Homo sapiens: one gene and its partner. The protein of the gene in region 1 purifies or fractionates together with the protein of each later gene. This does not show direct contact. Each region holds a gene or a part of one and is shown on either strand. Other genes may lie near its edges. The genes, in order: SRBD1 and TAOK1.

What was found.
Region 2: the proteins of SRBD1 (region 1) and TAOK1 fractionate together in Homo sapiens (co-fractionation; one large-scale study listed by BioGRID). This does not show direct contact.

The regions. Positions count from the first base shown.
Region 1 is NC_000002.12:45,597,681-45,601,505, reverse strand, and holds part of SRBD1 (S1 RNA-binding domain-containing protein 1), read left to right. Parts: intron 1-1,670; coding exon 1,671-2,057; intron 2,058-3,825.
Region 2 is NC_000017.11:29,543,619-29,547,443, forward strand, and holds part of TAOK1 (serine/threonine-protein kinase TAO1), read left to right. Parts: 3' UTR 1-3,825. UniProt on the Homo sapiens protein: Serine/threonine-protein kinase involved in various processes such as p38/MAPK14 stress-activated MAPK cascade, DNA damage response and regulation of cytoskeleton stability. Phosphorylates MAP2K3, MAP2K6 and MARK2.

The DNA of each region.
Region 1 (3,825 bases):
TAAGTGATGGAACTGGGTTTCTAAGTTAGGAACATGATTTTGTCAACATTTTGGGAACAGATATATCTCTCTTGGGTGTTTTTACATCAGTTGTGTTCACAAGAGAGATAAATACAACCAGAGTGCTGGTTTAATATTTAATAGTTTAAAATAATAATCTTAAGGACTTGAAATTCTTATGGCCAGCATTTCGTTCTCCTTGGAGCCTAATCTGAATAGGGAATTAAGTAGTAATCAGAAATTTACTTGATGAGCATGGACTCAGAATAGGATGATGAGATAAATCCATTCGTTTGAGTTTATTGAATGTCCACTGTGGTCTAGGCATTATGCTTGTCACAATCACAATTGAATGTTTTAATAGCTTGAAGCTAAGACAGTGGCTGACAACACCCTTTATGATTGACACTTTCTTTAGATATGTCAATTCATTTGATTAGGTTATCAACTCTTTTAGGCCTGGGAGTTATTTTATCTTTATGTCTCTGCTCTGATCCATTCTATTTTGGGCAAAAAATTTAATACTCAGAGGGCTCTCTAATGTTCATTATTTTCAAGTTCAGATGGTGGTGGTGGCAGGTTGGCATTCAGGTGGAGGTGCTCTTTATTGTAGTTCTTAATATTTTTAATAGTGATTCTGGAAAAAATACTTGATAAAAGAGAAGATAGAATTTTGACTAAAATTTAGTTTGGGAATTGTTCATGTTTGTGCCATCTGCATCATTTAGGTAACGGAGAACAGACCAGCTTAGGGGTAGGGTCTTTATCTTATTTACACTATACCCAGTGCCGAGATGGGTGCCAAGTCTCATTTCTTCACACTTGAGCTGTCACTTGGATTGGGGGGCAGTGGCAGTGCAGAGTGTAGTCCCTAGACACCTGTGTGGGCTGCTGTGCGGACTCTTGTTAAAGAAAAATGCCTGACATTAGCCTGCTATCATTCTGTGTTCTATCCTCTACTCTTCAGCAGAAATTGGTGGCATGTGTAGCCTGTTGAGTTGTATGAGTGAATGAGTGTTACTTTTCTGTCTGCTAAGTGGTTGACTTTGATAGCAAGTTTTAATCTTGGTTTTCTGGCATGTGTAGACCTATCCTTTACTCATTTTTAAAAATTAAACTGCTTATTTCTAAATAGTTGACATGCAATGGGAAGAAATAATAGAAGAATTCCATGTACTCTTTATCCATTTTTTCCCGAATGGTAGCATCTTGCAAATCTATAGTAAGATGTCACAACCGAGATACATTGATAAAATCCACTGATCTTATTTAGATTTCTCCAGTTTTACTTGTATTCATTCATGTGTATGTATATGTATGTACTTGGTTCTGTGCAATTTTATCGCACATGTAGGTTTGTGTATCTACCATGACAGAAAAGTTCCATCACCACAAAGATGCCTAGTGTTGCCCTTTTATAGCCACACCCACCTCCCCCCATCATCTCTGACCCTTGCCAACCTCTAATCTCTTCAGGAATGTTATATAAATGTATTCATATAGTATGTAACTTTGAGATTGGCTTTTTTTCCCACTCAACATAATTTACTTGAGATTCTTCCAAGTTATTGTGTGTATCAATAATTTGTTCACTTTTATTTGTGAGTAATAGTCCCAGGAAATTGCTTTTTATCTTCTAATTCTCATATGTTCTCTTTGTGGTTTGATAGAATAGCTCTGTGGCTATTGCTGATACTGCTTTAGAAGACAGAAAAAATAAATTGGATACTGTACAGACTCTGAAAACAGCCAAGACAAAACAGAAATGTGCAGCGCAGCCACATACAGTTCGAAGGACTAAAAAGCTGAAAGTTGAAGAAGAAACCAGCAAAGCCAGCAACTTAGAGGGTGAGAGTAATAGTTCAGAGACACCATCCACAAGCACTGTGTGGGGAGGTACATGCAAGAAGGAAGAGAATGACGATGACTTTACATTTGGTCAGTCCGCTTTAAAGAAAATCAAGACTGAGACATATCCTCAGGGGCAGCCTGTCAAGTTTCCAGCAAATGCCAATAGTACTAAAGAGGAGGTGGAAATGAATTGGGACATGGTACAGGTATGTGCAGCCTTTTTCTGTCACTTTAGTTGTTTTGAGTGCTTTCTTTTTGACTAGCATAGGGGTTGTACTGTCTAAGGGAAGGGCTGGGGGTTTTCAATTCTCTCTTCAGTTTTGCCAGTGATTTCTGGAGGCTTTCCTACTTGTAACTTTCTTGGGTACACTGTTTTGTGTTGTAGCTAATCATCAGTTCTTCAGCTAAGATGTGTGGCCTCTCTTGGCCTTTGCTATGGTGTTTTAGTGAACATAAACTATATAGACAGATTGTACCAACTGGTTGGGCCCCCACAGGTTCATTGTTAAGTTTTTGCTTTGAACTTGGACTGTATTTTCCTATAAAAGCAGTGTAGGTGATTAGGTCACTGGCTGTTCATACATCTATTTAACCCTTAGTATAATGTTGTAATGTACTACAACAAGGCCTAGCGATTTTTGAAAGGAAATTCTGTAAGAATTCCAACTTGAGATGCCAGAATTATATGTCTTACTACAGGGGAAATCAGATTTCTCCCAGTTTTTTTGGCTGGCTTTGGGGACAGTATTGGAGACCCGAAGAGTAGCTAGTGAGCTTTTGTCTGTCCCAGCACATTCTGGGACCATTTTAGACTTAATTATGGTAGTGCCTCTCAGGGTAGGTGGGGGTGACTTCCCTCCCTGTTATCTGTCCCATGTGATTCTATTGTGTACTCTTTCCCTTGCTATGATTGTGGCTGTAGAGCTGAGGGCCTCTGCTGGATCCTGATTCCACTTCTCAATCTGGGACTGCCTGTGTGTCACAAATGTCTTTGTACCCATGCTGCCTTTTCTATTACCTCTTAGTAAAACGTAATTTTTTTTTTTTTTTGAGACGGTGTCTTGCTCTGTCGCCCAGGCTAGAATGCAGTGGTGCTCACTGTCAGCTCCACCTCCCGGGTTCATGCCATTCTCCTGCCTCAGCCTCCCGAGTAGCTGGGACTACAGGCACCTGCCACCACGCCCGGCTAATTTTTCGTATTTTTAGTAGAGACAGGGTTTCACCGTGTTAGCCAGGATGGTCTCGATCTGCCTGCCTCGTGATCTGCCCGCCTCGGCCTCCCAAAGTGCTGGGATTACAGGCATGAGCCACCACGCCTGGCCTGTCACTGGTAATTTTTAATCATGATTTTTCTTCTCTGTGGTGCACTAAGGAATAGAATGTTGCTTTACAGCTTTTCCTCTTACCTTGTTCCTGAATGAATAGTCCAAGGTATCTTGGAAAAACAGAGTATAATTAGGCTCCTTTCTATGCCTTCTTTTTCTTTGTTCATTTATACCTAGAAGGCAGTGTTTTAAAGTGTGGTCCATGGACTACCTGCATCAGATTCACCCTGAAGCCTTTCTTAAAGTTCTTGGTTCCAGACCAGGCCTACAGAGGCAGGTGGACATGTACCACTTCCCTTCTCTTTTCCTTTTCTAACGCTTTTTAAGGTTATTTCCATTGTTGACATAGATCCACCTCTGGTAGTTGGCAGTGTGCAGGAGGAAGTTAAGAAGTTTTAGACTGTGAAGTCTCTGGTCTTTGAGACTTGGTAATAAGTTATTCGTAGTAAAGAGCTACTTATTCTATGACTCTGCTTCCCACCCTCTGTTACAGGGAAAGAGATGTAGAAAATGGCCCTGCCTTAACCTTTTGTCTCTAGGTTACAAGTATATAAGCTCTTTATAATGAGCTTAAGTAGAAAAGAGTTTTTCACCAAGGACATAGGGACCTTTCAAAGAACAAAAGGGACAGAATGTGGTCAAGTCTCCC
Region 2 (3,825 bases), on another chromosome or scaffold:
ACATTGCTTCTCGGCCTTTTGGCTAAGATCAAGTGTAGAAATCCATGAACACTAAAGGACTTCATTGATTTTTTCAGAGAGTAGAAAACAACTTAGTTTTTCTTTTTTCCTGAATGCGTCATAGGCTTGTGAGTGATTTTTGTCCATTCAATTGTGCCTTCTTTGTATTATGATAAGATGGGGGTACTTAAGGAGATCACAAGTTGTGTGAGGATTGCATTAACAAACCTATGAGCCTTCAATGGGGAAGACCAGAAGGGTGAGAGGGGCCCTGAAAGTTCATATGGTGGGTATGTCCCGCAGCAGAGTGAGGAGATGAAGCTTACGTGTCCTGACGTTTTGTTGCTTATACTGTGATATCTCATCCTAGCTAAGCTCTATAATGCCCAAGACCCCAAACAGTACTTTTACTTTGTTTGTACAAAAACAAAGACATATAGCCAATACAAATCAAATGCCGGAGGTGTTTGATGCCATATTTGCAAATTGCCATCTATTGAAATTCTCGTCACACTACATAGACATAATTGTTATCTCCTTTTGGCTTATGTGATTTTCTGTTTACAAGTAGAATAGCCAATTATTTAAATGTTTAGTTGCCACAGTGAACCAGGAGTCACTGAGCCAATGACTTTACCAGCTGCTGACTAATCTTCATCACCACTGTAGATTTTGCTGCATGTGCAGGTCCTCTATTTTTAATTGCTGTTTTCGTTGCTGCAGTACTTTACAAACTTCTAGTTCGTTGAGACTTAGTGACCATTTGGCATCAAGTTAACATCACACAATAGGAAACACCACTTCCACAAGTCTCAAGCCTCAGTGCTAAAGTACTACTGAAAAGGAACTAGGAAGTTTGGCCAATTAAAAAAAAAAAGTAAAATAAGTTATAGTGGTCAGGGAATCTCTTGACGAAAGCTAACTCTTATTTTTCAGGGGGCACATGTTTTGTTTTGTTATGTTTTGTTGTACAATGAAGGATGAACCCAATGCTAAAAAGTCAGTTATTTTCTTGGTTTTCCATTTCTTGTATATAAATTGTGTTGGAGGTGGGTAGGAAGCTGTGAGTATGACTTGAAGAAAAATATCCTTTTCAGTGACAAATCAGAGTTTCTTACAAGTTATTGTCCTGCTCCCTTCCAAGTTGTCTTGAAGAATCCTTGCTGCTAACTCTGGATCCTGCTTTTCCTATAGTCAGAGGGCTCCAAGGTAGAACTCTCTAAGTCCCTCTCAATGGCACTCTTTGCCTAGACCAAACTAATGACCAAACAGTAATCAATCTATCACTGTTGAAGTCCTGGTTTTCTCAACCAAATTTTAAGTCTTTCCCAGGTATGTCAGTCGAGTTGCCATGAATCCTCACCTGTAGGAGTTTCTGGGATTCATTTTAAGGAAACTGGAAGAAAATTAATGTTTTAATGTAAATGTTTTTAAAACCAAGATCACCATAGAGTTCACACAAAATTTTAGGCAGTGTTTCAAGAAGCACTCTTATGTGTTGTTCTTTCAGCCCATGCTCCAGGTCACCGGTTTTTAGGTAAACATGACATGACATGTACTTGTAATATCAGTGAAAGGGGCTTTTAGTCGTCTCAGTATCTTTTTTGCATTCAGGTATTATAGCGTTTCCAACAAATTGAGAAATTACTTATTTGGTGTAAAATGACGAGAGAGCTTTAGAATTTAATAAAATGTCAAAAATACAATTTGATACCCTTAAAAATTATTCATAGATCTGGCTGCTCTGTACTACTGGATGGGTGGAATAGGGAAGCAGATCACTTTTGCATACAAAAACTCTTTCAAACCCAAAATATTATTGGTGGTACATTTTAAAGTCCAATTGTGGACTTAAATTAGTCAAATTGAGAGTTACTGAGTCCATTCAGATCTCCAGTAGGGTTTTGTATCTAATGTATTTGGCCACCAGTTTTACATGTAGGTCATGACTATACCTGGATTTTATCATTAAGTTAACTTTAAAGTATATACAGTTTGCAAAAAATGATTCAAATTAATTGGTTTGTATATGTTTGTGAGATCTAGCTTCTGAGGAATCTCATACATAGTAGGAACCATCATAGAGTAAAGCTTGTAGCAGAAAAATTGGAAGGGTTTTGAGATATCCTAGAGAAAGAGCAAGCACTTTCTGAATCAGTGGGGAAATATCAATATTTGATCAAATTAACACTACCTCCTTCCCAGTGTTGGTGTTCACTCACTATATGTCTTTAAGAAAATTAAAACTATGGAAAATTTGTCTAGCATATCAGAAGTTGTAAATGCTATATCTGGTATCCAGAGGCTGGCTGTAAAAAGTTCCTTGGGGTCACTCTATCTCACATTTTTTTTGGTTAGCATTTTAAAAATGCAAAGCCACATACTTTGAAATATATTATTCCAAATTGAGCTCCCTTCCCTTTGCACATATTTTTTCCTCCCCTTATTGAAGTCAGCTCTAACCCCAAATTCTAGTATCCAAAAGTATTTTTATTTGTATAATGCTATCTGAAAAATGTGTTTATATTATATTTTCAGAGCTGCAATTCTTATTCGCCATTTCAATACCTAGAGATAGAGAGTCTTGTATTTGAAGCCACACACACTGGTGTAATATGCTTAGTACTCTAGGTCAAGGATTTGTTGGTAAATGGAACATTTTAGCATAGTCATGATTTTTGGTTGCCTAGACATCAGGTAAACATTCAGTACACTAAAGAAACTATCCTGGACACTCCCTCCTGCTTCCACCAATTTTTTTCTCACCCCCTTTTCAAAAATTGAAAACTCTATGAGTGTCTTTTTGAGACCATAAAGCAGACTTTAGTAACTTTCTATTTCTGTAAGTACTAAATGTCTGGCATTTTAAACTTTTGTAGAATACATTATGTTGGACACTGGAATAATACTATTTATTTTCACCTGTGAAAAATGACTTCATTGTACTTGAAACACCTCCTTTGCATTTCTCCATTTGTGCCATTCACTAGTGGAAATAAATTGTATTATACCATGATCTACTGGCTTTTTAAAACTGTATTAAATATGCACATTTTTGGTATAGCTATTATCATTTGTATGTATATATTGTATATACATATGAGTGTCTGTATGTGTGTATAGATGGATGGATGTAACTCATACTGTACATTTCCATCAGGGCACTTAAAAGTTCTGTTATTTTTGTTTGGTTTTGTTATTTCAGTCCTCAGTTAAGGCAAGAATGCATGTGTTTCTTAAGAATGAGTACTCTGCGTTGATGTTTATGAGAAGGTGGTCATTAGATGCAGTCTTTTCCTTTTTAATCCCCTCTTAGCACTTCTGTGAGTGGAGAGGACATTAAGTAAAATTTGGAATCATAAGTTGCAATGCAGTAAAATGGTGCTGGGGAAGGAGCCAGTTAGTGTTTCTGTGAGTTTGTGTTGTGATGCAATAAGAGATAAGTAATGCAGAGAGAAATGAACCATGGAAAGTAAGAACACTGATGGTGATTCCTCTGCAAAGATGATAAGAAAAAGAACCAATAAATCACACAATCTTTATGTGCTTTCTATATGTATTTCTTAGTAGTGATACCATTGATCCTCTTACTTTTTTTACTCCATTAATACTAATAATTATATACTTTGCTGAGGATCAAAACAGCCAAGAAAGGAATTACTGCTAAAGCATCTAAGATTCTCCTGAACTGTAAAATCAACAGGAAATGGCCACTGGGAGAGAAGGATTTGGTATTGGGTGAGGGGCTTTCTCCCTTTACCTGCCTCTTCTTGCTTGCTAATAGTAAGTTCTTTGTGCACCTTCCACCACTTCTGAGCCACTACT